Homo sapiens: one gene and its partners. The protein of the gene in region 1 purifies or fractionates together with the protein of each later gene. This does not show direct contact. Each region holds a gene or a part of one and is shown on either strand. Other genes may lie near its edges. The genes, in order: TMPO, SLC25A1, CAND1 and ARPC1B.

Region 1 (8,793 bases):
AGATTTTTTTTGAGACAGAGTCTTGCTCTATCGCCCAGGCTGGAGGGCAGTGGCATGATGTCGACTCACTGCAACCTCCGCCTCCCAGATTCAAGCAATTCTCCTGCCTCAGCTTCCCAGGTAGCTGGGATTACAGGCATGTGCCACCACACCCGGCTAATTTTTGCATTTTTAAAAGAGACGGGGTTTCACCGTGTTGGCCATGCTGGTCTCGAACTCCTGACTTCAAGTGATCCACCCACCTTGGTCTCCCAAAGTGCTGGGATTACAGGCATGAGCCACTGCACCTGGCCCAAAGAGATTTCTTGAAAACCTCTCAGGCGGGTTTGAAAAGTTGGAATTTCCTGGATGTTTTATTGATAGTAAATTTGAACATTCTCGTGGTAGTGGGGATTATGTACAAATAATTTGAACCTGATTGATTGTTTTTCCATGTTTTATTTTTATTTTAAGCATTATTTAGTTTTTCTGTACTACCTGACTGCACTTTTTGGAAAATTTGAGTAAGTCAGTAACATAGGATTAAGTTTGTTTGATTAAATCTTTTCTTGAAAGAAATAAGTCTTAGAACTCTTAGACCCTAGGCAACTATTTGGATATTATGGTGTGGGTTGCTTCCAGATATGAGCCTGACAGTTCTAGGTCAGTGCAATGTATGTGAATTAAAGCCTGCTAAAAGTACTCTCACTGTAACTCTCCACAGCCGTCTATTTAAGATTTCTCGTAAGTTGACATAATTGTTCTTATGAGCAGCTATTTTTTTGGTGAAGGTTTTTTGGCTTCTGATTATAGAATGATTAGCCATTAGCAGCTTTTTAAAAAGAATTTCTCATATCTTGCTTTATTTGAAGTATTTCAGGCCAGGTTCCATGGCTCACGCCCGTAATCCTAGGACTTTGGGAGGCTCAGGCGGGCATAACATTTGGGGTCAGGAGTTCAAGACCAGCCTGGCCAACATGCTGAAACCCCGTCTCTACTAAAAATACAAAAATTAGCCGGGCGTGGTGGTGCACACCTGTAATCCCAGCTACTCAGGAGGCTGAGGCAGGAGAATCACTTGGACCTTGGATGCAGAGGTTGCAGTGAGCCAAGATTGCGCCACTGCACTCCAGCCTGGATAAGAGTGAGGCACAGTCTCAAAAAAAAAAAAAAAAAAGATTTGATTTGAGCCTGACAATTCTAGGTCAGAACATTTTTATTGTTAAAAACAGTAATTCCAGTACATAGTCAAATCATGACTGATTTTTCCCCCTAATATTATTGGAAAGTGAGCATTCCATACAACTTGATAATTTTAGCCTTTTTCGTAAAATTTACTTTGATGTTGCCATTGTTTAATTAGCCATTTTTTTGTTCAGTACTCTGATGTTTTTTCTGTGATCACTGAGGCATTTGTCAGGCTGTTTGCCACAGCCTTAAAAGGTATCCGTACTTTTGCTTCCTTTTTATTTGTTCAACCTTGGAAATTTATAGTTTTTCCAGTAAATACTGCCTTTGTAGAAATTAATTTTAAAACTTTCAAATTTTCCCTCAAAGTTTGTTTCAAGTTATTTTGACTATTTTTAGTAAACTGGTGGTACAGAAGTTAATCTGGTGACTAAACTGTGTCACAGGTGATAATTTAACCATGAAGTCTGTCAGATTTCCTTCCTAAGTCATAAACTAGCTACTAAAATAACTGTGTTACAAGGAGTTTACAGTCCTGTCTCCTATCCTTGGGGTGGAGATTGGTTCCAGGACCCGGCCATGGATATCAAACTCTGGGGATGCTTTAGTAAGTCCCTTAATATAAAGTGGTGTAGTAACCTACACACATCCTCCCTTATACTTCAGATCATCTCTAGATTACTTATAACGCCTAATACAATGTAAGTGCTATGTAAATAGTTGTTATACTGTATTTTTGTTAGTGTTTTTATTGTCGTATTGTCTTTTTTTTCCCCAAGTATTTTTGATCTGTGGTTGGTTGAATTCACATATGTAGAACCCAACTGTATTCATTTGGGAGAATGGAGAGCCAACTGTATTCATTTGGCCTTCTTAAGTTCTCATATGCTGTTTAAAGAAAATCATTTCTGGCCGGGCGCAGTGGCTCATGCCTGTAATCCCAGCACTTTGGGAGGCTGAGGTGGGCAGATAACGAGGTCAAGAGATCGAGACCATTCTGGCCAACATGTTGAAACCCCGTCTCTACTAAAAGTACAAAAATTAGCTGGGCGTGGTGGCGCACACCTGTACTCTCAGCTACTCGGGAGGCTGAGGCAGGAGAATCGCTTGAACCCGGGAGTCGGAGGTTGCAGTGAGCCAAGATTGCACCGCTGCGCTCCAGCCTGGCAACAGAGCGAGACTCCACCTCCAAAAAAAAAAGAAAAAGAAAAGAAAATCATTTCTATATATGTATCTAAGTGTAAGCCTGTATGGTAAAGTCTTAAACTTTCCTGGATTAATTTAAATTTTTAAGGATTATCAAAAAGTTAGTAAGTAGCATTCATGATCATTTAGATGAAAAATGTTAAGCCCAGTCTGGCTTTACTTTCCATGGTTCATGCTGATCTGTTTCCGTTGCCATTGGAGTTATATGCTTTAAGAAATGAAATATAATTTTTGGTTATTTAGGCTGTGTGCAGTGGTTTACAACTGTAATCCTAACACTTTGGGAGGCCAAGGTGGGCTGATCACTTGAGTCCAGGAGTTTGAGACCAGCCTGGGCAACATGGCAAAAACCCCATCTCTACAAAAAAAAAAAAAAACAAAAAAAAAAAACCACAGGCAAAAAGCCAAGGGTGGTGGTGCGCACCTGTAGTCCCAGCTATTTGGGAGACTGAGGTGGGAGGATCGCTTCAGCCTGGGAGGTGGGGGTTGCAGTGAACTGAGATGGAGCCACTGTACTCCAGCCCGGGTGACATAGCTAGACCCTGTATCATTAAAAAAAAAAAAAAAAAGGTTATTTAAAAGAAAATGTTACCCAAAGTCAGTTTTACTTTTAGTTGCTCTTTTGCATTTTTGATGCCATTACTATCTCTTTTAGATAGGTAATCCAAAATGGACTATTTTAACAACAATGTCTTTAAGTTACTTGCTTGGCTGTGCGGTTTGTATGATTACAGTTCAACTTAGAAAGTGTTCTCCAATAATGAGTTGCTCTTAATTTAATGGAATTGCTAAGGCCTAATATTACTATAAACCAATTTGGTAGTGAGTTTGCATGTTTATGTTATACAGGTTATTATCTAGTAAGTGAACACTTTAATTCATATGGAAATGATTACTGGACTTTGTTTACAGAAAGCCACAAAAAAAACTGATAAACCCAGACAAGAAGATAAAGATGATCTAGATGTAACAGAGCTCACTAATGAAGATCTTTTGGATCAGCTTGTGAAATACGGAGTGAATCCTGGTCCTATTGTGGGTAAGTTGATAAAATTTCAAATACAGTATCTTTTCTCTGAAGCAGGACCCCAAATTATTTTCTCCTTTTTGTTTAGCAGTTTAGGTTCCAAGGACTGGTTTGTCATTAATCATTTGTTATCAGCAGAACCTGTGTTTCTTTGACTGTAAATGAGTGAAATAAAATGAGAGGATTGAATTAGATAATCTCCAAAATTACCTCTATTGTTGAGATTGTTTTATATGGTGCTTATATCGTACTTTTTTTTTTTTTTTTTGGTTTTGTTTTGTTTTTTGTTTTTTTGAGACGGAGTCTTGCTCTGTCGCCCAGGCTGTAGTGCAGTGACGCGATCTCGGCTCCCTGCAAGCTCTGCCTCCCGGGTTCATGCCATTCTCCTGCCTCAGCCTCCTGAGTAGCTGGGACTACAGGCGCCCGCTGCCACGCCTGGCTAATTTTTTGTATTTTTCAGTAGAGATGGGATTTCACCGTGTTAGCAAGGATGGTCTCGATCTTCTGACCTTGTGATCCGCCTGCCTCGGCCTCCCAAAGTGCTGGGATTACAGGTGTGAGCCACCGTGCCTGGCCACTTATATCGTACTTCTGCTGAGACGTGGGTCTTGTATGACAATTGAGGAAAATCTGAGGTAACATAGCTGGGCAAATTTGCCCAAATAAATGAGTTAATGGCCGGGCGCAGTAGCTCACACCTGTAATCCCAACACTTTGGGAGGCCAAGATGGGAGGATTGCTTGTGCCCAGGAGTTGAAGAACAGCATGAGCAACATAGGGAGATCCCATCTCTGCAGAAAATTTTAAAATTAGCAGGGTGTGGTGTCACAAATCTATTGTCCCAGCTACTTAGGAGGCTGAGGCAGGAGGATTGCTTGAGATGGTGGGGGGAAGTCAAAGTTGCAGTGAGCCGTGATGGCTACTGTACTTCAGCCAGGGGCAGTGGAGCAAGACCCTGTCTCAAAAAAAATAAATAAATAAGGGAAAAAGAAAAAGTGAGTTAGTGACAGACTTCTTCTTAATGAAGTTATTAAATTCCTAGCCTAGTACCCTATTTTTTTTTTTTTTTTGAGACGGGGTTTCGCTCTTGTTGCCCAGGCTAGAGTACAATGGTGTGATCTTGGCTCACTGCAACCTCTGCCTCCCAGGTTCAAGCAGTTCTCCAGCCTCAGCTTCCCGAATAGCTGGGATTACAGGCACCTGCCACCATGCCCGGCTAATTTTTATATTTTTAGTAGAGATGGGGTTTTGCCATGTTGGCCAGGCTGGTCTGAAACTCCCGACCTCAGGTGATCCCACCCACCTCAGGCTCCCAAAGTGCTGGGATTACAGGTGTGAGCCACCGCGCTGAGCCCCTTTTTCATTTATCATTAAAAGTACCCTTTTGAAAGTCCTATCTTGATTGGAATTGAGGAATTATACCCTTAAAAAACAAAAACCTAGGACTAAATACACTGGATTTCCATCGTTGGATTACTTTTAGGTGATGAAGATTTTGCAGTGTTGATTATGCCTTAGTTTTGGAGGGTCTTAGCAATAACCTCAAGATGAGAAAATTCCATTTTATTATTATTTTTTTTTTTGACAAGGTCTTTGCTCTGTTGTCCACGCTGGAGTGCAGTGGCACAGTCATGGCTTACTGCAGCCTCAGCTTAGGCTCAAGCAGTCCCACCTCAGCCTCTCAAGTAGCTGGGAACACAGGCACGTGCCACCATTCCCGGCTAATTTTTGTAGTTTTTGTAGGGATGGGGGCACACTATATTGCCCAGGGTGGTCTTGAACTCCTGGGCTCAAGCAGTCCTCCCACTTAGGCCTCCCTAAGTCCTAGGATTACAGGCATGAGTCACTGCATCTGGTCTTGATCTTCTAAGTTACCTAAAATTGTGGACGCTAGAGATTTGGTAGGTTTTGCTATAGGTATAGTTGCAAATAAAGATTTAGAATATTTTGTTTTAATGTATAAGCTGCTTCCAAATAATCATAAGCTTATTCATATACAAGTACCAACAGATATATAACACTTTTAAAAAATGTTTTTGTTTAAAGTTCTAAAAGGCCTGGGCATGGTAGTTCATGCCTGTAATCCCAACACTTTGGGAGGCCAAGGTGGTGGAATTGCTTGAGTTCAGGAGTTGAAGAGCAGCCTGGACAACATAGTGAAACCTTGTCTCTATTTAAAAAAAAAAAAGTAGCCAGGCATGTAGTGCACACTTGTAGTCCTAGCTACTCAGGAGGCAAAGGTGGGAGGATTGCTTAAGCCCACAAGTTCAGGGTTGCAGTGAGCTATGATCGCACCACTGCAGTGCAGCCTGGGCAACAGAGCAAGACCTTGTCTCAAAAAAAAAAAAAGAAATTCCAAAAGGGAGACACTGAAAAATGTGTGTTATAATATCAGCCTACATTAAATTATATGTTGATGTATGACCTGTTCATCTTAAGGCTATTTATATAACATTTCTGGACACATGTTGCTTCTAAAAAATATCCATTATCATTTTGCTCATCTTACCAGGAGTTAAGGAAAGATAATACAGTTAATGTAAAACAAAATCTATTTTGGTTTTAAACTGTCACTGATGTTCAAATGTATTAAGAATTTGTAATCAATTTTGCTTTGTGATATGTGTTTTCCATAAAAGGTCATTTTAACTGCAAAGTTGTTATATTTAAATCTGATTTATAGAACTTTTCTTTTCCCCATAACTGAATACAGGCATATTAATGTCTTAGAGTTGTGGAAATTTAATCATAGTTATTTTTCATAGAGGTACAATCCGCTTACATGTGATTTTTCTACCTTGGCAAGTACTATTACGTAGTAGTAGAGAAAATAAATGCAAGACTTCAGTCAAAAATAGTCATACATGGCTTTTCAGTAGATGGTCTATAGAAAGGCCTGTATTAACCTACTATGTATTTCATGCTATTAAAAGAAATGTCATTTCCCAAAAAACCACCTGTTGTAAAAAGAGTGCATTATATAGTTGTGTGGAATGCAATGGTGCGATATCAGCTCACCGCAACCTCCATCTCCTGGGTTCAGTTCTCCTGCCTCAGCTTCCTGAGTGGCTGGGATTACAGGCGCCCACCACCAGGCCCAGCTAATTTTTTGTATTTGTGGTAGAGACTGGGTTTCACCATGTTGGTCAGGCTTGTCTTGAACTGCTGACCTTAGGTGATCCACCCGCCTTGGCCTCTGGAGGTGCTGGGATTACAGGCATCAGCCACCACGTCCTTTTTTTTTTTTTTTTTTTTTTTAAGACAGCATCTTACTTCCTCTCCCAGCTGGACAGTGGTGCGATCTCAGCTCACTGCAACCTCTGCCTTCCAATTTCAAGTGATTCTCCTGTCTCAGCCTCCCAAGTAGCTGGGATCACAGGCGTGTGCCACCATGCCCGGCTAATTTTTGTATTTTTAGTAGAGATAGTTTCCCTGTGTTGGCCAGGCTGGTCTCGAACTCCTGACCTCAAGTAATGTACCCGCCTCAGCCTCCCAAAGTGGTGGGTTTACAGTCGTGAGCCACTATGTCTGGCCGCATTATATGGTATTTTTTTTTTTAAGAACTTGAGTTTAGAAAAATAAAGGGTGAAAATAGCTTAAAATGTTGCTGAAGATAGTGTCTGAGCTGCATCCTAAATGAAACAATACAGGTACTAAAGCAAGTTCTGCCTTAATCCAGGAACAACCAGGAAGCTATATGAGAAAAAGCTTTTGAAACTGAGGGAACAAGGAACAGAATCAAGATCTTCTACTCCTCTGCCAACAATTTCTTCTTCAGCAGAAAATACAAGGCAGAATGGAAGTAATGATTCTGACAGATACAGTGACAATGAAGAAGGTAAAATTTTAAATGATGTTAATCAAATGTATGGAATTTTTTCACACTCAAAATTCAGTGACCATGAAGAAAGTAAAATTTAAAACAATATTGGCAAGATACACAAATTTTATTCGTGTCATTAGAGTAATTCTGTAATTTGATTTAAATACTTTTTATTGAAAATTCTAAGAAGCAACATAGTACAAATTCATAATTTTCCATCACCTGAAATTGCAAGTTAACTTTGTCTTTTTTGCTACAAATCTCATTTTTCTGAGAGAATAAAGTATTACAAGTAAAGGCAAAGTTTCTCGTACTTACCTGTACCTATCACCTCCACAGAAGTAACTACTATTATTAATTCAATGCCTGTCTTTCAAGTTTTATATTTCACATACACATCTGTCTAATACATGGTATTATTTTATACTTTAAGAATAAAAAATTTATATAAACAGTATGCTAAATCTTATCACTTGCTTTTTCTTACTCCATTATTTTTGAAATCTAATCCTGTTAATTACATATCTGTTTATTCTTCATAATTAATACATAGTGGTAGCATTTAAATATGGCATATTTTCTCTGTTCTCTATTGATAGGCATTTAAATTGTTCGCAGTTTTTGTTAATCTGACCTCAGGGCAACTTTAAAGCAAATATTTTGACTATATTTTTAGTAGACTGTATAGTATCTTAAAATTTGATCATGATGTTTAAATATTTTTTAAGGATAGTATGTGAAATAAATGTCCTTTAAAAATTATAAATACAACTTGATTTTTGTAAACTTTTAATTAATATGACTTGTGATTATTTATTTTGATCCAGATTGTTTATATCTCAATAAGCTTTGTCTACCAGGGCAAATCTGGCAGATTAGTTCAGAATATGAAATTATAGTCTTTTCCTTTGACAGCACTATTTTTAGCAAAGAGGCAAAGAATAAAATCAGCTCAAACACAGGTAATGCTTAAACTTCCTGCCTCTTTTGCCTCTACAGGAAAGAAGAAAGAACACAAGAAAGTGAAGTCCACTAGGGATATTGTTCCTTTTTCTGAACTTGGAACTACTCCCTCTGGTGGTGGATTTTTTCAGGGTATTTCTTTTCCTGAAATCTCCACCCGTCCTCCTTTGGGCAGTACCGAACTACAGGCAGCTAAGAAAGTACATACTTCTAAGGGAGACCTACCTAGGGAGCCTCTTGTTGCCACAAACTTGCCTGGCAGGGGACAGTTGCAGAAGTTAGCCTCTGAAAGGAATTTGTTTATTTCATGCAAGTCTAGCCATGATAGGTGTTTAGAGAAAAGTTCTTCGTCATCTTCTCAGCCTGAACACAGTGCCATGTTGGTCTCTACTGCAGCTTCTCCTTCACTGATTAAAGAAACCACCACTGGTTACTATAAAGACATAGTAGAAAATATTTGCGGTAGAGAGAAAAGTGGAATTCAACCATTATGTCCTGAGAGGTCCCATATTTCAGATCAATCGCCTCTCTCCAGTAAAAGGAAAGCACTAGAAGAGTCTGAGAGCTCACAACTAATTTCTCCGCCACTTGCCCAGGCAATCAGAGA
Region 2 (9,528 bases), on another chromosome or scaffold:
GCAGTGAGTGGCTGGCATCTCTGGAGGTCAGTATGTGAGGGTGGGGGTCCCCTCCAGGCAGCTGCGAGGGCTTGGCTGCTCCCAGAACTGCCTGGAACCTGGGGAGACTGTAAACAACCTCTTGCAACCCCAAGAATAAAGCTGCCATGTGTGAGGGCTTGCTCTGAGCTAAGCATGATTCTGAGCACCGGCAGGGAGTACAGCAAGTGGATGCTGAGGCCTGGAGGGCAGGCCCCAGAGAGCTGAGTGCCCCTCCAGGTTTCATGGCTGGCACTGTGGACCAGTGTGGCCCACTGCCTGCTTGCCACCCCACAACAAAGCTTCAGAGGTGCAGAACCAGTGGCCTGAGCTCCAGGGACAGGAAGCATCTTGGCGTGGGGTTCTCATGGTGGCACTTGCATGCCCTAGTGCACAGGGGCGGAAGGGGAAGCTCTGTTGCCTGGGCCCTTTCTCTGTGGCAACAGATGGGGAAGTCTGCCGTGAGGATAGAGAGTGCATGGCCATCCCATCACAGCACAGGTTGAGTGCTGAGCCACCCCGAGCCCTCCCCAGCCCAGCGGCTCTCCCCAAGGAGGCTTCAAAACCCCGTGCTCCCTTTGTACCCCCAAGCCCATGCTTGGCTCTCAGATCCACCTCGGGCCCTTTGCACCCCAGACTCCTCCCCAGCTGCACATTCCCGGGATTCCAGGCATCTGGTGCTGTGTGAGGTCACTAGGACAGGGCAGTCTCCCCAGGGACGGGACCTGTTCACATGGAGTTTCTGGCTGGCAAAAGCTTGTTCTCCAGTCTGAGCCAAACGCTTGCATGACTCTTCCCCCACGGAGGCACTTGGACAGGAAGCTGGCTTCTCTGCACAGCCAGGGGCACTAAGTGATCCCATCCTGCCTGAGCGTCCTCCACGTGGCTCATAGGCTGTGGAAAGAGGGGCTTGGCCCCATGGGGACATGCCAGTTCAGAGCTCTGGCCTCCAGCCAGAGGGACACCTTTCTCTGAGGCTCATGGCTGTGGCATGAGGTGCCCAGAGAGCCCTGGTCAGGCAGCCCCACCTCCTGCTGCCCCAGGGCAGCTGCCTCCCAGCCCAGGTGAAGGAACAAGGGAGGGCCCCTGCCCAGAGCCTTTGGGTAGCAGATGCCAGACACCCACCCCCACCTGGAGTTCAGAGGCCTCAACGTGCCCCCATCTCCTCCTCCCCACGAGCAGCCCATTTCACTCACTGAGGAGCTGGGCATACCCCAGAGGGGCCCTGGGCAACCCAACCCTTCCCTAAGCTTCCCTGTGGGTGAGGGGCAGGCAGTCGTCCTGGGGGCTCCATCTCCTGGGCCCAGCCCCCTGCTCTGAACACTCTGCCAGGCCACCCCTAGGCCTTGTCAACACACCCTTTTACCCATGCCACGGGATCTTGCCCAGAGGCCACAGGGAAGGCCAGGGTGCACCCAGATCCTTCTTGGCCTGGCGCTGGGCTTCTCAGGGAGCCAACACTGTGGCCACAGCTGCTCTGCCCTGGGTGGACACTAGGCTTTCCCTGTCCCCCTACTGCAGTGTCCTCAGATGGGGGTGGCCTGGTCCCCTGCAGAGGCACAGCCACCAATGCCCATGCATAGATGGGTCCATACAGGGACGAACACAGGACAGGAGGCTGCAACAGGATCCGGTTTATTCTGCCTTGGCAGGGTGGTCCTGAGAGTGGTGGGTGCCACCCTGTCCGGGGCGGAGAGAGGGCCCGAGGGCCAGTTAAGGCCAATGGCGGGAGAAGCAGGGGGCTGCAGCCCCTGGAATGCGGTGAAGCCAGGCCGAGGCCCGGAGGCAGCTGTGGTAGGCCAGGGCAGGGTGGAAGGCACCGGACTGGGACCGGGCCAGGGCTACAGGGCCGAGGACCCAGGCCACACGGGCACCCCGGGAGGCGGGGCACAGGGTCACGTGACACAGAACATGAAACACAGGCACAGGGTCATAGGCCAGATGCACATCCAGCCATGGCTGGGCCAGACACTGGGACACAGTGGTGGTGTCACACACAGACCACAGGGGGGACACATGGATTTGACAGCCACAATGCACAGACCAGGCTACAGAGCTCGAGGGACGTGGGAAGGGGCCTTTTGGCACTACTGCACTGGAATCGTGAGACAAAGGTAGCAGGACACTCTGGCGGTGCCTGGGGCGGTCCCCTTGCGGCCTCTCTAGGCTTAGTCCGTCTTCCACACTTTGTTGAGCAGCTTCACCACTTCATCATAGATGACAAACACTATGGCCACATCCAGGCAGACCCGGCCCAGGCGGGGGACAGTGCCCTTGTAGAATCTGGGTGGGAGGAGGGGCGGGGAGAGGAAGGCAGGTCAGCACAGTGTCCCTGCACAGGGCAATCCCCAGATACTGAAGTGAGAGGCACAGAGGCCTGAAGGGGACAGAGTGGGCAGGCCAGGTAGGCCGGGAAAGGTTTGAGGTGGGGACAATAGCCCTGCCCCTCCCCCACTCACGCCTTGAGCCCCTCCTTCTTCAGGATCTGCAAGCCGCAGTCCCACGTGTTCCGGTATTTGTGCGCCTCCAGGCCCTATGGGGGACATCAGCAGGCAGGGGCTCAGCAGCTAGCTCTGGCCTGGTCCCCCCTTCCCCTCCCCTTCCCGGCCCCACCACCTGCATCCGGGTCTTAATCACATCCAGAGGAGTGTTTCCAAAGACACTGGCTGCGCCTGCAATAGCTCCGAAGACCCCAGTGATCAGAGGGTTCATGGGCTTGTTGGGGTTGTCCCCTGGATATAGGAGGGGTGAGGTGGGTCAGAGGGTGCCGGGAGGGGCCTGGATCAGCACTTCAAAAGGTGGGTGCCCGCCACCCAGGGGTGGCCCCAAGGAGAGGAGAGGAGCTGGCCATGTGCAGAGATGGGGCCCTGTGATGCAGACACACCTCGGTACCAGTTGCGCAGGGAGGTCATGACGAAGAAGCGGATGGCCTGGTTCGAGCCCTGCTTCAGGACAGTGGCTGTGAGGCCCTGGTACGTCCCCTTCAGCCCTGCGGGAAGGCAGGCACGGGGTTACCCTGCAGCCTCTCAGGCCCCGGTTGGGAATTGGTGTGTGTGGGGGGTGGGTGTTGCACAAAGCCCAAGGCAGGATGGGAGGTGCAGGCCCTTCCCACCCTGGCCCAGGTCCCTGAGCCCTATCAGGAAGGTCGAGTGGCTCACCTTGTTCCCGCACAATCTCCCTAACCCCGTGGAAGAATCCTCTGTACTTGGGGTTTGGGGAGGTCTGGTCGTGGATGAACTTCACCTGAGAGAGAGAAGCAAAGGCGCAGGTTCTCGGCTGCCACCTGGGTGGGTCCTGGCTAGCTGGCAGGCCCAGGGCCCATCCAGGGTGGAGGGAACTGGGAACTCTTCCCCAGGAAGCAGTGCAGCCAAGGCCGCCCTGGGCTGCCCACACGGACCATGCCCCGGGACACAGGGCAGCCCACACGGACCATGCTCTGGGACACAGGGCAGCCCTGTGAGCAGCCTCTCCCTTTATGTTTGCTGCTCTTTTCCAGTTTTGGCAGTGAAGGTGTCATTTTGTTTTCTGCTTTATAAAAGTATTTTTTAAAGACTTTAAGGCTGCCTTTAGCATAGACTCAGCCTCCACGGGTGGCCCTTCGTGGCAGGCGTCCTGCCCCAGGGCCCCGCGGTCACCCCGCCGGCCTTCCCTGGCGTCCAGGAGACCCTCCCCAGCTTGCCGGTTGCCCCGGGAGCACCGGGCCAGCGGGGCCGCCCGTCTCCGTACTCCCTGCGTGTCCGGGGTCCTCGCCAGGACCTTCCCCACCTTGATGGTCTCCATGGGGCACACGACCACCACGGCCTCGGCCACGCCAGCGCCCAGGCCGCACAGCAGCCCACGCGTGCTGTCCAGCCGTCCCTGGGCATCCCGCATGTGGTTGCTGAGGAACTCGAACATTCCAAACCTGGAGGCGGGAGGCGGGTGAGAGGGGCTGCCGCGGCCGAGCCCCCCTCCCGCAGCAGCCACCGGCCGGGCCTCACCTGACGGCCGCCTTGGGGATGGAACCGTAGAGCAGGGAGCTAAGGCCGCGGTACAGGCCCAGGACGCCATGGCTGCGAACCGTCTGCCGCACGCAGTCCCCTGGGGGAGGGGGCGGTCAGGACCCCACGGCCCTCGGTGCCGCCGCCCTGGGTACCCGCCCCCCGCGGCGCCGCGGCCTCCCCCTCCTCACCGATGCCCCGGTACCGCGGCGGGTGCGAGCGCTCGTCCAGCTGCAGCTGCGTCTTCACGTACTCGGTGGGGAAGGTGATGCAGATCTCGATGCCACCCGCCAGGCCGCCTGCAGGGACCGGGAACCCGCTCCTGAGACTCCCGCCCGGCCGCTGGCGCTCGGGCCCCTCCCCCGTCCCGGACTTCGGTCGGCGCGGCCGCCGCGCCAGTGCCGCGGGGAACATAGGCTGGGGCCCCACGCCCCCATGCCCTCACCCCGTTGTCCCGGCGAGGCGCAGGGGGTGACAGACGGGAGGCGGGCGAGTCCCAGCGCGCCGGGTGGGGACCAGGACCGCGCCTCCACGACTCCCCAGCCCACGGCCCAACCCGGAAGTGGGGCGGGGCCTCAGCGTCCCGGGCCCACCCAGAAGCGCGGCGGGAGAGGGGTCCGCGTCCCGGAGGGGCCCACCTGCCAGGATCGCCTTCCCCGGGTGCGTCAGCTTGGCCTTCCCGGACGCGGGCGCGGCGGCCGCCAGAGCGCGCGGGGCGCGGGGCGCGGGCATGGCGGGCGGGAGGCGGGGCGCCCTGTGGCGGCTTCGGGTCCGAGACTCCAGAACTCCGCGCTCGGTCCGCGGTGGCGGCGGCGGCCGGTTATGGTCCCAGGGGCGGGGCGGCCGCGTCAGCTCCAGGTCCCGCCCCGCGTGGTCCGAGCCAGGCCCCGCCCCCAGCCCGCCCCGTGCGGGCCGGGAAACTGAGGCCTGGGCGGGGCGCGCCGAGGCAGGCGTAGGGGCGGGGCCAAAGCGCAGCCAATGGCCGAGGCCGAGTCCCTGGGCGACCGCGAGCGGCGGGACGGGGGCGGGGCTGCGGGAGGCGGAGCCGTGGCCCAGCTCCGAGCAGTGGGTCAAGGTGCACTGTGTGCCGCGCCGCGGGATAGCGGGCCTCGGGTCTGCGCGACTGTCGAGAGCGGCGGGATCCCCAGGGATCCCGGAGGCCAGGGGCACACCCTCCCCGAAAACACGTGGGGCTAGCCCAGTCCCAGAGGAACTCTAACGTTTCAAACCTGGAGGCGGGAGGCGGGAGGCCGGTGAGAAGGGGCTACGCCGCCGGGCCCCCCTCCCGCAGCAGCCACGGGCCGGGCCTCACCTGCCGGTTCCCACCCACACCTTTCCCGGTTGTAGTTTCTGCGCTCAGCGAACAAGGTCAGGAAAGACCACAAATGCAAGCGGCTGTATTCTCCTAGGCAGCTTGTCTGGGCAACGGAGGTCCCACACCCCAAAGAGGACCCAGCAAATCTTTAATGGACTGCGGGGCCTAGGAAACTGGCCCGTCCCTCCTACCCATACCAGCACCAAGCAGAGCACCTTTGCCTGGATAAACCGACTTTAATATTTATGATTGCCAAGAGGCTGAGAGTCCTTTTATGAGGTCCGGTACCTCCAAACAAGACGTGTTCATGTAGTCTTCAAACTGGCCTGGAGGGGGCAGCTCCAGCCAGTCGGAGGCGCCCAGGAGGAAGGCCTGGCTCCAGCAGGAGGGCCCACAGTCCAGTCTCTGTTGTCGGCTAAAGCTGGTCTTGCGCCGTCAGCCTCTACCCTGGCCTCCCCAGGCTCTGGGATGGCTCAGAGGTTGCCGTCATTGGGTTTCAGCAAAAATAAATATTGTCCAGGTGTCCCTGCCTCCCATTGCGTCCCCTGTGCTGCTGGAGTGACATGCTCCTTGGAGAAGTTAGTAACTCTGCAGGTAGGGTGGGTGGTGACAACGCCCACTACACGCGGAAGTTGTACATTGGAGGCTGGCGAAGTTGGGAGCAGAGGCATATCCATAGGGGAAGCTGGCAGGGGCTGGGCCCACGGCAGGGCCTGCAGAGGGGGAAGCCCACAATGAGCAGAGCTCTTCCTGCCCATGGGGGTCCTCTCCTGGCTGCCCCTGAGTAGCCCGGGGCCCAGGGAGCAGGGTCTATAGGACCAGCCCTTACCACCCAGACGCTGAGGCCCCAAGAGAGCAGGCATCCAGAGGCAAGGAGCGTGGGGTCAGCCAGAGAACCTGGCCTGGCTAGAGGATAAGCTAGTCTCCAAATGGGACACTTACTTAGTGCAATCAGCTGGGTCTCATTCATGCCCATCAAAATCTAAAAAAACCAGAATGACATTAATGGTGGAAGGACACACTCAGCCGGACGCTGGAGACCCGCCGGCGTGCTGCACACTCACACCACACCCTCAGGCCTGTGTTTGCCCCACAGTGTCCAAGCACCCCACAGCCTCTCCAGTCTGCTCGACAGCCAGGCTGCCCTGGGCAGGTTCTCAGGTGCAAAGCCCCTCCCAGCACACACCAGCAGCAGCCTTGCTGTCCAGGGGCCAGGCCCAGCAGGACACAGCAGTAGTTCACAGCTAGGCAGGCACCCCTATCAGAAGGCAGGCATCCTTACAGCAGGGAGGACAGCGGCCGTGCCAACATTCCTGGGCGTACACTTCTCCACACCCAGTAGCCACTGGGATCCTTCCAGCCCCCACCCATCTATTCCCATCCCCATCCAAAGCCCAGCCAGGTAAGGGCAGTGGGACTTTGACTCCCTCCCTGCTCCCTCCCCAGGGGGTTGGGGGCTACAGGTGCCACCTACCAAACACGAGAGGGGCAGGCTCTGTCACATGCTCCTCTTGCTTGCGCAGACTCTCCAAGGCATCCAGTTTGTCCACCTGCAAGGAGGCAAAAGCACGTGAGCACCCGCTTGACAGAGTGCAGTCCGGCCTCTAGGTGAAAGTGGAGTGGAAGGTCAGGACACAGGGCCTCCAGGAGAATGACAGTGGAGGAGGTGCACATGGGCAGATGTGGAGTGGCTCAGCCCACACCCCATGCACTTTTAGAATGCAGCAAGGCATGGAGAGGTGAAGCCTCGGTAGCTGGGCTGAGATGGAACGCCAGGTGGGGCCCCCAGAGCTTCCCAGTGGGCACTGGGGCAGTCAGTTGTTACAGGCTGTGCATGTGGCCTGCTTATGGGGGGCCAAGTCCTCCTCTGGATACAGGGACACTGCCACTTACCGACCTGCAGGGCTGGGGCCATGTGCAGGGAACACTGTCTGCTTCTGGCTCTGGCCAGTCTAGTTTGCCCGCCCCTCCAAACCAGCAGAGAGATCATGTGGCTCTCAGAGACAAGTCACCTGGCACCTAGACACTTCACCTGAGAAGCACTGAGGACAAACTGCCTCCTCACTCTTCCCTGAGGCTTCACCAGGCACTGACCCCACCCACTGCCAGAGAGCGAGGCGGCAGCACTGCACTAGAGGGGCGGCAGCAACTGTGCAGCTAGGATCCCCTCACAAACACACTGAGTAAGAAAGAGAAATAAGAATGTGCCCCCCATGAGCTGGGGTCTGGGGGGGGCTGAGAAATGAGGAGGAAGCAGGGGGCACACTTGCTGACACCTAGGGTGAGGGCTGAGCTAGGCCTGTACCCTCCCTACAATGGGAGAGCGCTGGGGGCGTCTCAGAGGGATGGCCCTCAAGCTTCCCAGATGAGCCACGAGGCCCCAGGCCCAGCTGTCCACCAGGAAAGGACTGTGCTTCTTGTCCGCGCCCTCATTCTCCCAGCACTGCTGTGTGGTGTCAGCTGAGCACCAGCTCAAGCTGACAATCAGCTCACACCCCCATGCCACTGACTGGGAAACCCCTTGCCAGCCCCCTCCTCTCCTTGAACTCTCCCCATGACAGGCGTCTCATCTGCCCCAGCAGGAATAGGTGGGTGGCAGCAGAGAAGGTGCTCCAGCAGCCACCACCTCCCAGGGCCAGTGGAGTCTGGGAACCCTGGGCCAAGGCTGTGCAGCCACAGTGTGGACCAACGTGATAGTGGCTGCTAACTCCATCATCCGCAACAGAAAGGGAATGTGCGCCTCAAAGTCCTGGGGGATCCCCACAAGCACTTTGACCCCCACAGCAATGACACTCCCTAGGGCCTGGTGAGCCTGAGTTCCTCTGACACTAACCCACGGGCCTCTACTGCCAGGAAGAGATTCAAGCACTTTCTTTCCTTGTGCTGGTTCTCAGAACACAGACTACTTTCAGGAAAGACACCCGAGGGATGGGAAAACCTGCTCATCATGGTGACAGCAGCTTCCACAGGCACGCACCAGACACCGCACACCACACACTGCATACCACAAACCACATACCACACGTGCCGCCTGTAGGGAGTTGCCATCCACTGTGGTGGGGGAACCAGGGCCCTTGTCAATCCAACCAGTCCATGTCCCCTGGCAGCCCACGAATCTCAGGCCACGTAGCCAGGGCTGTCCCTTCCTCCCCAACCCTTGAGAGTCATCAGGGAGTCTCACTCAGGCATGCTATGCAGATGGGATGGGGTCACACTGTCCTACAGGAGGGCAACGGCCTTGAATGGACTCTGGGATGGCCTTTATCAGGGGCTGGGCAGCCCCCTGGAGGCTCTGCAGGCGGCAGGCAGCCCTCCAGGCTAAAGCTGGCAGCATGAGCCCGCCTTCCTGTTTCCTTCCTACCTCCCACTCACCTGGGAGGCCCCTCCCTTCCCTCGCTCCACTGAGTGATGCTTCAGCATGAGTGCCTTCCGAGGCTCTCCATCTGGCTTGAAGGAGGTTAGATAGGCAAGTAGATGCTACTGGAAGTAGCTTTTCCAGTGTTAGAAACAACAAACTGTACCAGATGACACTGCTGACACAGGTCTCTGGACAGTGGCTAAAGCTAGATCCCAGCAGGGACTCCTAGGACTTCAACACCCAGGGAGAGTTTTACAATCAAGTACTGTCACTTCGATGAGGCAGAGAGTCATCCTCCCTATAGCTGTTAGAAGGATTCAGTGGATCTGTGAATACTCCTACTATGTGTTCAGCAAAAGGCAGCTACCACCAACCGTATGCTAACAGCTGCACCCCCAGACGCCACTGGGAGCTCCTCAGGGAGCTGGGATTGCCAGCCACCTCACTGTCACCTTGTTGAAGTCCAGGGCTGGGGATGAGCACGCCTGTTGTGCTCCTAGCAGTGTGCACATTGGGACAGCTGCCCAGCCAGAGTCTACAGGAGGGCTGCTGCCAGTGGGCACTCCCCATGATGATTTTCTGGAGGGGCTTAACGTTGGGCAGAAAACCACTTCAGCATGAAGGAAAGCAGCCACTCCTGAAGGCAGCCAGGGCTGGCTGGGGAATCTGGGTTGGCCTCAAAGGGGCCCACCCTTAAGACCTGCGGCCAGAGTCACTGCCAGGGTTGGGTCATGCCACACAGGGGCCGGGGAGCTGCAGCCGGCCCGGCACCTACCTTGCTCAGGTACTCCCTCATCACCTGGATGAAGTAGGGCATGGCCAAGTCCACGAGGTTGTGCCTCCAGGCCAGCTCAAGC
Region 3 (8,793 bases), about 31 Mb from region 1:
AAAGGTGGTAAATTTCATTCTGATTGTGGTCAATTTCAGTCTGAAGGTAGCACTTTATAATAATACAATTTTGTTCAACTAGTCATTCTCCTGTATAAGTTTAGAAAGGCTAAAGAAATTATGTGGTGATACCATACATGTGATTATTGACTGAAGCTTGCTTTCTTAAATTTCCTGTGAAAGAAAGATAACATGTACATACCTAGTTGTTTTTTTCTTAAATAAATTACATGAAAGAAATAGTGCTCTGATACTAAATGACAGTCACTGCTGAATTTGGTAAAGATTATGTATGAATTTTGGTTGTACTGAATCAAAACAATTCCTGGAGGATTAGTGTAATATTGATATATTCCTAATAGTTGGTGAATGCTAAACAAGGTATATTTAGGAGCAGTACGTGATTTCCAGTAATTTGGCATCATTAAGATATTTTTATCAACTGTCTTCTAAAAAACATTTTTATAATGCGCTGTAGCCATCTAGTTAATAAACAAGTCTTTGGAACTAAAGCACTTTATATGTTTAGTTTAAACAGACATTTAATAATTAATTAGTGAGCGTTTGGAGTCAAGAATTTTGAAATTTTTTCTGCATATTTTTAGTATAGGCATTTATTTTAATTTGCTCTTTTTTAAAAAAATGATGCCTTGTTCTCATTAGAAGTTTATTTATTTTGGCTTAAATACCAAGATTTGTGGCTACATATTTTAAAAATACCTAGCACTAGAAGGATCTTGAGGGCAAGGTTAACATTATGGAATGACCAACATGTGCAAAGCACTCTGCCTGTACTAAGGACGAGAGAAGAAACAAATGCTGCCAAAATGAAGAGCAAATTTTATTATCCTCATGGTAGAATCCAAAGAGAATTTGACCTAGTCACAAGATCTGGGTTCTAATCATGTGTGATTCTTTGTTATGAACTGTAAGATCTTATGCAAGCTATTTAATTTGAGATTACATTTTCACTTCTGAGAGGCATGGACATGACTAATTACAAAAGGTTGTTATAGGCATAAAATTTCAGGTCTATTTATATAATTACATAGTTCATTAATACAGAGAAGGTAAAGAAATGAATGCAGGCTTAAAAATTTGGAAATTTCTGCATTTTAAAAGAATCTTTTTGTAGGACTATTAAGGCTCAATTTATTGAAAAATTGTAATATTTCTTTTGTGTTTTAGTATTGTGCATTATTTAAAAATGAGATATTAAGACTTAGGAGAAATGGGGAAGCATTAGGATGAGAAATGCTGAGATTAGGAACTCTGCCATATGCAGGGTTTTTGTTGTTGTTGTTGTTTTGGTTTTTTTTGTTTGTTTTTTTGAGATGGAGTCTTTTCTGTCGCCAGGCTGTAGTGCAGGGGCGCCATCTCAGCTCACTTCAACCTCCGCCTCCCAGGTTCAAGCAACTCCCTTGCCTCAGCCTCCCAAGTAGCTGGGATTACAGGCACACACCACCACGCCTGGCTAATTTTTTGTATTTTAGTCAAGACGGGGTTTCACCATGTTCGCCAGCATGGTCTCGATCTTCTAACCTCGTGATCCACCCGCCTGGGCCTCCCAGAGTGCTGGGATTACAGGCCAGCACCGCATCCACCCATGCAGGGTTTTTTGTTTGTTTGTTTTAAAAAAAGGAGACTAGGAGCTCTTTTATTAAAAAAAGGAGGAGGCATTTGTGTGTCTTAATTACTAGGATAGTGCCTGTTACTTACTAGCCTCGGTTTAGTGAAAAGTTATTAATGAATGCCAATTCAAATAAAACCTTCAGAAGAAAAATGAAGAAACATTCCTTGGGACAGTACCTTAGAACAGTGCTTCTCATCACTTCCTCCCTAAAAGAAACACTTCTGGAGTGTACTGAGACTTTTTGCCAGAAAACATTTGTACCAGTGTATATAGTTATTTTAAGGACCTCTAGGGATGCATGTTCCATAAAGGAATAAAGAGTAAACCTTATAATGTAGCCAATAGATAGGGGATTCGGTTGATACCAGAGTGAAAGCTTTAATGTGGATGAACCATGTGACACTCCATTTGTGAATATTAATATTGAATATTTGGTAGGTTGAGGTAACTAAGTTCTTTTCTTTTTTTTTTTTTTTTTTAGAGATAGGGTCTCGCTCTGTCACCCACGCTGGAGTGCAGTGGCACCACCTCAACTCACTGCAGCTTCAACCTCCTGGGCTCAAGCGATTTTCTTCCCACCTCAGCCCCCAGAGTAGCTGGGACTACAGGTGCGCACCACCACACTCAGCTAATTTTTTTTATAGAGATGGGTATCACCATGTTTCCCAGGCTGGTCTCAAACTCTTGATTTCCGGCAATCTGCCCACCTTGGCCTCCCAAAGTGCTGGGATTACAGGCTTGAGCCACTGTGCCCAGCCACTTCTTTTATTTTCATATTCTTCAACCACCAGTTGATTTAAAATATTCCAAGGAATCAAGAGCTAAAGAAAATATCATTATCTTTCTATATATAATAGTTAATATTAATGCTTACTGTGAGCTTGATTTTTGTTTATCCTTACAACTTTAGTAAAAGAGGATAATAATAATCTCGTTTACAGTTGAAGAAACTGAGATTTGGAGAGATTAAGTACTTGTTTAAGGTCAGTTAGATAGTAGGTCTGGGACTTATAGGATCTCTTTACCCCCAGAACATGAACTCTTGACCACCCAGCTATGTCACTTCTCCAGGGTTTAGACTAGTGGATGTTAAGATTCAGGCCTTAAATTTCATTTCCCTCTAAAATTAGGCTTATAGAATATTTCATGCTAGAAGATGCTTTTAATAATTCCTGAGGACTACAAAAAGTTTAAGATCTGGTGCTTACTTTCCCTAAATCTACATGCTTGTTGAATAGTTAAGACACTATTGTAAAAAGATGAATAACCCAGGGCAATATGTAATTGTCAGGCATTAAGTGGCAGAGAATATTAAAGCAAGAAGATTCATGTCCATGGAGAGATTTGAGCCAGGTGTTGAAAATGAAACTCTAGATAGAAAGTGAAAATGTAAAGCACACGATACAAAACTTCACTGGGGAAGAGGGAATAGATAACCTGACTGTAGCTGGATGGATATTGTCCACAGAACTCCTTAAGAATAGGGACCTTGTCTTACTAAACGGAATCGTTCTCTTTGTCTGGCTCTGGGCCATGTGGGTTCTCAGTAGGTGCTTGTTTAAGTAGAATTGGGTTTTATTTCCATTATATAGGGATTTTAGGAACCTCCAGAAAACCATTGTAAAATCAACTAAACTGTTTGTTTAAATACCACTTGATAGAATCTTCTTAAAATAATTCACCCCATTTTGGAATGCAAGTTTTTCCCAATTTGATAAAGGTTTATATTACCAGATTTATTTATTTAAGTGTTTTGGATATTGGACGGTATTTTCTTTTGGAAACTGTTTAAAATGCTTGTAAAAAAAACTCAAGCCTTTTAAGGAATCAGGTTTTCAGAGCTGGAAGGAACCTTAGAGATCCTATCATATAGCTGAAAGTACAGTGTGGGTGGGCATTTACAATAACATAACAGGAAATAGTGAAATTATCTTAAGTACTTGTGCTTGGAGAAAAGCAGGTTTAATCAGAAGAAATAGATTTGCAGAGATTAAGAAGGTGATTTCTGGGCACTTTTAAAAATACTTAGAAGGTTGATGGCAGTAACTTTCTTGATTTTACTTTGATGTTTTTTTCTTGATATATACTATGCTAACTGGTTATCAGCAGTGATTAGGGCTCACCACTGAGAAAGAGGAGGAAGGGACCTCACAGAGAAAACTGGGAAGAAAGATTAGTAAAAATTAGATTTCTTTACATGAACAATATTAAGACTATTCCAATTTAGGTCTTGTGTGGTGGCTCACGACTGTAATTCCAGCACTTTGGGAGGCCAAGGCAGGCAGATCATCTGAGGTCAGGAGTTCATGACCAGCCTGGACAACATGGTGAAACCCCATCTCTACTAAAAATACAAAAATTAGCCGGGCATGGTGGTGCATACCTGTAATCCCAGCTACTCGCGAGGCTGAGGCAGCAGAATTGCTTGAACCTGCGAGGCAGAGGTTGCGTGAGCAGAGATTGCACCACTGCACTGTGGCCTGGGTGACAGAGGGAGACTGTCTCAAAAAGAAAAAAAAAAAAACTGTTCCAACTTAATTCATAGCACTCTAAGGAATAACTGAGGAAAAGTGAAATAGCAGTGGTGTATGTGCAGGATCTCTGAAAGGTAATTGGTGTACTGAGTGATAAAATTGACCATATCAACTAGATTTCTGGTTGGAAGCAAGAGTAAAATTGTGTTTATGTATGATGGGAGAGGCTGTGGTGAGAGTTATTGTGAGTGCAAGGTATCTATCGATCTAGTGCATACCTAGTGTAAGTTCCAGACTGTGTTACTCATCACTGTGTTTGCAGAGTAGAGTTCCTTATGTTGGTGCCCTCAAAATACTTGTTGAATAAAGGAATGAGATGGCACTGCCTACAGGTCATATCAACCTGGGAATTCCATTGAAGTCTGAAACGTAAACATTTATCTTTTTCTTTTCCCGTCTTAATGCCTTCTTTATCCTTATTTTGGCCTGTTAAATTACCATCCACTGAAAGTCACAAGCAGAAAATCTTTGATATCACCCTTCTCCCGTCTGTCTTCTTTAGTCTCCTGATGAGTATTTCTCAAATTAATCTTGCTGTCTCAGGCCTCTTCCTAACCCAGTTTGTTCCCTCTGGCCATTAGAATTTTCTTCCTATATACTGCAGCTGATCATTGCCTCCCTCACTAATTTCCATTGACTACAAGATAAACTCCAGATTTCTTAGCTGTTGCCCATCTGAATTCGTAGAGACTGCTCTCCTAAAATCCCCAACAGTCTCCCTAGTCTCCTAATATAACTCATTTAGTGGATATTTTCTTTGCTCATCTATTTGGTATATTTTTTTAAATCACTTTTTCCTTCTTGGAATTCTCTTATATGGGCATCCTGACACGAGTTGGGTTTTTGTCCGTAATAGTCAGGGAAAACACACACTTTAGGGTATCAGAGGATGTTAGAAGGAACCTATTCATTTGGGTAATTTGGGAAAGAGTCTAAGGAAGTGAAGCCTTGCTTTAGGTTGAGTGTTGTCAGAAAGTGAGGTCAATTCTATGATTCGGCCTCTTAATAAATTTTACAGGGAGGGCTGACCTAAGCAGGGGGAAAGCTGTAGTTGGTAAAGAAGTATCAGTCACTCATTTAACTGGAGAGGGGAATGTTTGGTATTTTGTATTGCTCAGGGACCTTGTCCGAAATGGATGTTCTGTGAGATTGTTTATGTCCAAGAAAACAATATGCCTTAGCTGTTAAGCATCAGATCGGTTAGTAATAACACTGAGGTTTAGTTATGAGTCTCAGATAAGTTTCTGGAATGTGGAGGCTGCTGTTTTTTTCTTTATCAGTGCCCACTTTTGGCCAAGGGTAGACAAAGTTGGGCTGCAGGACATTAATTTTTGATTTTCACATCTTCACTATGGCGGAGATTTTGTTAAGATCAGAGGAATATCCATTCCATGTAGTTTGCAGTTTAACCAAAGTTAATCCTTTCTTCTGTTGTAAGATGAGCAGTTTATTCATCTGATGTGACAATGGCTGCAGGGTAACATTAAGACTCTGGACAAGGATATGTTAGCTGACTGTATTACCCAGTCTTGTGGTTTTCCTTTTACTTCTTTCCTGCTAGCTCATCCTTACCATCCCTATATCTAATCCATTTTGAAGAACTATTAATTTTAGTTTGTAAAATTCAAACCAACTAGTTCTCATTATTTGTAGTATGTTTTGTAACATTATCACAAACACTGAGTTAGCAAGTACTGAACCATTGCTTCTGAGGGAATTATGGAATTAGTTTCTCTGAGTCCTGAGTCACATTATTTTAATCAGTTGATGAGTTTGTAACCTCGTTTTATGAGTGTTTCTTTTAAAGTTGTCTTAATATATATTGCTGATTTATTAACATTGAATTCACAGCCAATAAAGAAGCTTATCTAACACATATGTTTTTTTCAGAAGGCACATTATAGCCTTCTTGCACTTAGGAATGCTAGACAGCATTTCAGCACTGTGCTTGGAGGCCATATTAAACAACAAGAGCGCCAAGAAAAAGCACAAACATGTGAAAAACATGGGCTGAAATAGGCCAAGAAGAAGATGCTTGTTTACAACATGAGAGCTGGAGCTAGAAGGCAGAGTGTTGCTTTGTGCCACCACAGCTGGGAATGTATGTGTTGGATTACTCAAAATTTTCACCACTCGACACTCATCCAAATGACTGTGAAATAGGAAGCATTAATTTTGCTTTACAAATAAATGTTAATGAGTAGGTGAATTTGCAAATATGGAACCTGGGAATAATGAGAATCAACTGTATGTCATTTTTTTTTCCATCTTCATTGATTGCCATAACCTAAGTCAGGCCATCATAATTTCTAACTTAGTCATTCTCCTAACTAGTCTCCATTCAGTATGGCCAAATGAAGATTTGTTCTCTCCAAAGTATGGTCCACAGTATAGCTGGAGTAATGTTTCTGAAATGTAAATCTGATCATTGCATTTATTCCCCATCTGTAACCCAGTTGTTTTTCAGTAGCTTCCCACTCTCTTAGAATAAAGGCTAAAATCCTGATATGGTCTACAAATCCTTTAAATTCCTGGCCCTTGCTTACCTGGCACTAACTTCCTCCTGCTTCACCGTAATTTTGCCTACTCTTTATTTATTTTTGAGACAGAGTGTCACTCTTTTGCTCAGGCTGGGGTGCAGTGACGTGATCTTGACTCACTGCAACCTCCACTGCCCGGCTTCAAGCGACTGCCGCCCAGGTTCAAGCATTTCCCCTGCCTCAGCCTCCCAAATAGGTGGGATTACAGGCATGTACTACCATGCCTGGCTAATTTTGTATTTTTGGTAGAGACGGGGTTTCACCATGTTGTCCAGGCTGGTTTGGAACTCCTGACCTCCACCTGCCTAGGTCTCCCAAAGTGCTGGGATTACAGGTGTGAGCCACCATGCCCAGCTCCTACTCTTCAGATCAGTCTTTCCTGACACAACCCGCAGTTCAGTCTAGGTCATGTTACTTTGTTTATATGATAGTGCTTTCTTGTTTTGGGATGAATCTCACTCTGTCACCTAGGCTGTAGTGCAGTGGCTCAATCTCGGCTCACTGCAACCTCTGTGTCCCAGGTTCAAGCGATTCTCCTGCCTTAGCCTCCCAAGTAGGTGAGATTACAGGTGTACACCACCACACCCAGCTAATTTTTGTAATTTTAGTAGAGACAGGGTTTCACCATGTTGGCCAGGCTGGTGTCGAACTCCTGACCTCAGGAGATCTGCCTGCCTTGGCCTCCCAAAGTGCTGGGATTACAGGCGTGAGCCACTGGCACCTGGCCCCATAGTGTTTTCTTGATAACACTTTCCTTCATAGCATTTATCTTAGTTCTTAGTTCTACAGGTGCTTACTCATACATGCAATTTAAAAAGTTAATATGCCTTTTACTAGACTGCAATGTAAGCTCCAAGACAGCAAGAATTGTGTGTGCTTTGGTTAGCCCTTATATCAGCAAAAACTAGTACAGTACCTGATATGTAGTAGGTTCTTATTACACAGTGTATGAGTATATAACGCCATTCCCATTTTGACCTCAGCCTATATTCCCATCATCTTCCTATTAGGTTTCTGTGCTCCACATACTGAACTGTTTCCTTAGTCCTTCACTCTGAGGTGCTCTGTCCTTCCCCACCACCAAAAAAAAAAAAAAAAGTAATTTAAATTCCAAACCAATTTTTCCCATGCAAACCCCTGTTCATCCTTTGAGATCCAACCTAACAGTCAACTCTTGGGTGTGATAATTTCCATATGCTCTTGAGTAGTGTTTTATAAAATGTATTGAGATCTGTGCCCTTAGCACCATACCTAAAAGAGTAAATGCTGAAGAGACATGGACATGCCATGGACAGCTTTCAAACTGGTCAAACAGCTTCCTTAATAAGATTAATAGTGTAAATTTTTAATACCACATTTATAGAAGGAATAAATTATTCCCAGAACTTTGTGATTTCAGGGTCACCATTTAAAAGCAACTCTTGGTATTATAATAATCTACTTTTTCTGCTTTTTAAAAATATCTATTGCTAATTTTGATAGTGCTCATTTCAACTTTTTAAAATATTTAACCATTAATCATAGATTTTTGAAAATCAGTAGGCTTCTTTATTACAATATAAGTAAGCTTCTTGATGTTAGGGGGGCCAAAGTGTATTCAACTTTTATCTGTCCTGATTTCTTAGTCCAGAGTTTCTTACATAATAGACAGTGAATAAATAAACAATAAGTAAAGAATGAATTTGTGCCGGTAGAACCATACAGGACCATAAAACAACTTTTTACTTGGGATTATGTTTTTCTACTTAAATTGATGATCCCTGTTTTCTCTGGAAGCAGGTAACTGGCACTGCAGTGGTTCTTAGAGGTCATAACTATTATGGTTATTTAATGGATTTTGTTTAAGTAAAACAGTTAAGATTTTTTCAGTACTTTGTGTGCAGGAGTGCCTGCATTAATGTGTTATGCAATTTTTCCACTTTCCAGAATATTAATGAAAATTAGTCATGTAGTTTTAATTTTGTTTTGTCACATTATAAAATGGGTGAGGGGCTTCCAATTAGGAGAGCTGTGTCCATTTTTTAAAAGTACGTGCTTAACTGATCTTGTATTGCCCTAATGCAAATATAAGCTTTTTTAAAAATAA
Region 4 (3,806 bases), on another chromosome or scaffold:
TAACCAGGCTTGGTGGTGTATGCCTGTAATCCCAGCTACTTGGGAGGCTGAGGCAGGAGAATCGCTTGATCCCAGGAAGGCAGAGGTGGCAGTGAGCTGAGAACGCACAACTGCACTCCAGCCTGGGTGACGAGCAAAACTCCATCTCAAAACAAAAGTTCCACAACCAGCCTGGAGTGTGTAGCCCCTTTGTCCAGGAATTTGACTAGTCAATCAGTGACACCTGGTACTGGCAGTTTTGGGAGTGGCAGCCCAGGATGGACAGCAGTGGGGAGGGAACCATTTGGCATAAGGCCGTTGGGCTTCAGGATCAATTTTGTTGGCAAGCAGTAAAAATAAGCTATCTACCTATGGCCGTGCAAACACCAATCTCTCCCTGGAGTCCCAGCTACTTGGGAGGCTGAGGCAGAAGGATTGCTCCCACGAGTTCTAGTGCAGCCTGGAAAACTTAGCAAGACCCCAAGGAAATAACAAAAAACCTCTCCTTCCACATAGGCAAGCATGTCCATAATTACTTTTTTTTTTTTTTTTTTTTTTACACAGTTGCATTTTATTACCTCCACATTTTGAAGCAGTTCATGACCAGCATAGTGCTTTGGGGGCATTTTTTTTTTTTTTCAATAAATGAAAGCATTTAAGAAAAAGGCACGTATTCCTTGAATAGGTAAGAAAAGCTCCCCATCTGTCCCCTCCCTTTTTGAGGGAGCAGCCCCTATGGGAACTCGTATTGGTACCCCAGAAACATTCAGCAAAGCAACCATTAGCCTCCCTGACCCCTCTCCCCGCTTCCCCAGCAGCTAGGATGAAGGCAACATATTCCTCACAGGTCATTTGATCTTGAGGTCCTTCAAGGCTGACTCCAAGCTCTGCAGGGAGGCAGAACGGACAGGCTGGTTCTCAGCTGTCCTGCAGGCACCCCACTCCCAGGGACCTGATCACCCATCTCAGCCCCAGCACAGCAGAGGGCAGAGAACCTGCAGTTTTGGAGTCTGTCAGCTGGGTTGGAATCCCGGCCCTGAAGACGGGTGCCCCAGTGAGCACCAAGGCCCAGATGTCAAGGGGCCGCCCCCACCCCTCATCCCCATGCAGTGCCATCTCTGCAGGAGTGAAGGATGGGGGTCATCTCCAGGGAGTGGGGATGGGGGGAAAGGGTTGACCTGGGAGGCATGGCGGGAAGCCAGGAGGGGCAAGCCTCACCTTCACATCCCAGATACTCATGCCGCCATCCATGCCAGTGGTGCAGAACTGCGAGCACTTGGCCTTGCCGCCGCTGAGCACCGAGATCTGGCTGCAAAGAGGAAGAGGAGCTTATGAATTCAACCTGTGCTGGCGCTGGGCTCAGGCCCACCCTGTCCACCAGGCGCTCCCAGACTTCTTGGGGAGCGGGCTTTAGTGAGAAGTACCGAGGGGGTGTAGTGGGCTTAGAAGTCAGTTCTGCCTTGGGGACAGTGGCATGCGAGGTGCAGGCAAATGGGACAGGACACTCAAGTCCTGGGAGGCAGGAAAGACACGTGTGTCTGCGGAGTGTACACAGTGCCAGCAGTGCAGCTGGACAGGACAAAAAAGGAGATGGGGGTGGGGGCAGCCAGGGACTAAGCTGATAGCTGGACAAAGGTGTTTCATCTGAGGAAGCCATCGGATCTGGCGGACACAGGAGGTTTTACAGACCGAAGGGCTTGGCCAGTCTTGCCATACAGCTCCCGCTCCCTCTGATTCGCCGCGGGGTGGACACGTGTGGCTGGCAGCTTTTGGGCTTTGAAGAGCCTCTTCCCCATCCCACCCTAGATCCATAGAAGGCTGCGGAGAGACCCTCAGCTCCGCCCCCACCTCGCTAAGTGCTAGCAATAGACCCGCCCCAGCTGTGACCCCGCCCAGGAAGCCCGCTGGTCACTGCCTGGCCACCCCAGAGAACCGTAGGGGCCAGCCCTACGACAGTCCCCACCTAAGTCCCGGAAATGCAGAGCGAGGCTAGCTGCTCAGCCCCATCTGATGCTATTTTTATGCAACCTAAAGAGGTCGACCCCGTCTTATGTCGGTCGCACCGTGTCCCTCCCAGGCTCCACTAGCACCTGGGCTGCTATGGTGAGATCAAGATGGGCCCCGCCCACAACTAACGATGTTATTCCGCAGCGAGTCAAAGCCACTCCCTACCCTGGGCCCGCTACGCGACCTCTGCCGGCCTCCGCCCCACGCGGTTTTAGTACGGCGCCAAGGCCCCGCCCACAAATCGGCCCCGTCCCCTCGTGTCCGGGCCCGCCGCTCATCAGACGCCGTTCCGGCGCAGCGAGTTGAGGGCACGCCTACCCTCCCTCCGGGTCCCCAGTCCTCAAGGTCCCAGCACAATGCCCCAGGAGGAAGACTCCAGGCCCCTTCCTCACCCGACGCTGTTTCTGGGCGAGCCGAGGCCCCGCCCACCCGCCGGCCCGGCTCCCGCTCTCACCTGACGCTGTTCTTGTGCAGCGAGTCTAGGCCCGCGCCCGCAGCCGTGCCACCCTCGGAGCTCGCCTTCTTGTCCAGGTTCTGGAAGCGCTCGCGGGCCGTCAAGCCACGCTGCGAGCTCTGCTTAGGAACGTCCAGCCGCCCGCCGAAGCTCAGCATCCCCGCGGCGGCGTCATAGGTGAACAGCACCGGGAAGCAGTCGTGGCCCTGCGCGGAGGGCGGGGGCCATTGGAGCGCCGCGGAGGGGAAACCGAGGCCGGAGGGAAGGCCAGGCGGGCGTCTGGCCGCCCGGGAGGCAGATGCCAGCTCAAGGATACAGACGGGCCACAGCGAGGGAGGCCCGAATTGCAGGTGTATCAAAACCGGGGGTGATGCTGGGGGCTGCCACCTCCCCCAGCAAGGCCAGCGTTGGGACTCCCTGGGAGCTCAGGCGCCTTCTGTCCTGCCCAGCCAGTTACACCTGCTCTAGGGGAGACCCCTGCAGCTGTTTGCTTTTCTAGGCAAAAAGCAAGCCTGACCTGGCCCTGGCACCCCCATTATGTTTGCAGAGGGGTGAAAAGGGACTTGACAGATGTGGGCGGAGGGGAGGGAGAGCAGTGCCCTTCCTGGACACCTGGAGGAACCGCACACCCCGAACTCTCGCCCTTTGCATTAGGCGTGGCCTTGCCATTGCACCTGCCAATAAAATGTGGGCAGAAATGTTAAGACCCAGGGCATGATTCCGCAGGTTCCGGCTCCCTCGTGGCATCTGGGACAGCATGCTGGGGACAGCTTCCATCAGAGCACCTCACAACACCCACACTGGACATAAAATGTGAGCAAGAAGTAAATATCTTTTTTTTTCTGTTTTTGAGATGGAGTCTCGGTGGCTCACCCTTGGCTCACTGCAACTTCTGCCTCTGGGTTCAAGCAATTCTCCTGCCTCAGCCTCCCGAGCAGCTGGGACCATGGGCGCCCACCACCACACCCGGCTAATTTTTGTATTTTTAGTAGAGATGGGGTTTTGCCATGTTGGCCAGGTTGGTCTTGAACCCCTGACCTCAGGTGATCTGCCCTCCTTGGCCTCCCAAATTGCTGGGATTACAGGTGTGAGCCACCGGGCCTGGCTCTTTTTTTTTTTTTTTTGAGACAGGTTTTGTGTCGCCGAGGCTGAAGTGCAGAGGTACGACCATAGCTCAGTTCAGAAGCCTCGACCTCCCATGCTTAAGTTATCCTCCTGCCTCAGCCTCCCAAGTAACTGGGATTATGAGATTACAGGTGCACCACCACACCCAGCTAATTTCTTAACTTTTTGTAGAGACAAGGGTCTCACACTGTGTTGCCCGGGCTGGTCTCAAACTCGTGGCCTCCAGTGATACTTCCACCTC

Evidence for each region.
Region 2: the proteins of TMPO (region 1) and SLC25A1 purify together in Homo sapiens (affinity purification with mass spectrometry; 2 studies listed by BioGRID). This does not show direct contact.
Region 3: the proteins of TMPO (region 1) and CAND1 purify together in Homo sapiens (affinity purification with mass spectrometry; 2 studies listed by BioGRID). This does not show direct contact.
Region 4: the proteins of TMPO (region 1) and ARPC1B purify together in Homo sapiens (affinity purification with mass spectrometry; 2 studies listed by BioGRID). This does not show direct contact.

What each region holds. Positions count from the first base shown.
Region 1 is NC_000012.12:98,524,601-98,533,393, forward strand, and holds part of TMPO (thymopoietin), read left to right. Parts: intron 1-3,285; coding exon 3,286-3,412; intron 3,413-7,079; coding exon 7,080-7,238; intron 7,239-8,222; coding exon of another isoform or gene 8,223-8,793. UniProt on the Homo sapiens protein: May help direct the assembly of the nuclear lamina and thereby help maintain the structural organization of the nuclear envelope. Possible receptor for attachment of lamin filaments to the inner nuclear membrane.
Region 2 is NC_000022.11:19,173,944-19,183,471, forward strand, and holds SLC25A1 (tricarboxylate transport protein, mitochondrial isoform a precursor), read right to left. Parts: upstream 4,794-9,528; 5' UTR 4,731-4,793; coding exon 4,637-4,730; intron 4,563-4,636; exon of another isoform or gene 4,413-4,562; coding exon of another isoform or gene 4,298-4,412; coding exon 4,190-4,297; intron 4,099-4,189; coding exon 3,999-4,098; intron 3,923-3,998; coding exon 3,784-3,922; intron 3,262-3,783; coding exon 3,177-3,261; intron 3,008-3,176; coding exon 2,903-3,007; intron 2,751-2,902; coding exon 2,635-2,750; intron 2,552-2,634; coding exon 2,478-2,551; intron 2,302-2,477; coding exon 2,187-2,301; 3' UTR 1,638-2,186; downstream 1-1,637. Other genes in the region: CLTCL1 (clathrin heavy chain 2), read right to left, coding at 6,276-6,295, 6,788-6,863, 9,447-9,528. UniProt on the Homo sapiens protein: Mitochondrial electroneutral antiporter that exports citrate from the mitochondria into the cytosol in exchange for malate.
Region 3 is NC_000012.12:67,271,386-67,280,178, forward strand, and holds part of CAND1 (cullin-associated NEDD8-dissociated protein 1), read left to right. Parts: intron 1-2,114; exon of another isoform or gene 2,115-2,241; intron 2,242-8,793. UniProt on the Homo sapiens protein: Key assembly factor of SCF (SKP1-CUL1-F-box protein) E3 ubiquitin ligase complexes that promotes the exchange of the substrate-recognition F-box subunit in SCF complexes, thereby playing a key role in the cellular repertoire of SCF complexes.
Region 4 is NC_000007.14:99,391,511-99,395,316, reverse strand, and holds the end of ARPC1B (actin-related protein 2/3 complex subunit 1B), read right to left. Parts: intron 2,647-3,806; coding exon 2,441-2,646; intron 1,289-2,440; coding exon 1,198-1,288; intron 867-1,197; coding exon 828-866; 3' UTR 501-827; downstream 1-500. UniProt on the Homo sapiens protein: Component of the Arp2/3 complex, a multiprotein complex that mediates actin polymerization upon stimulation by nucleation-promoting factor (NPF).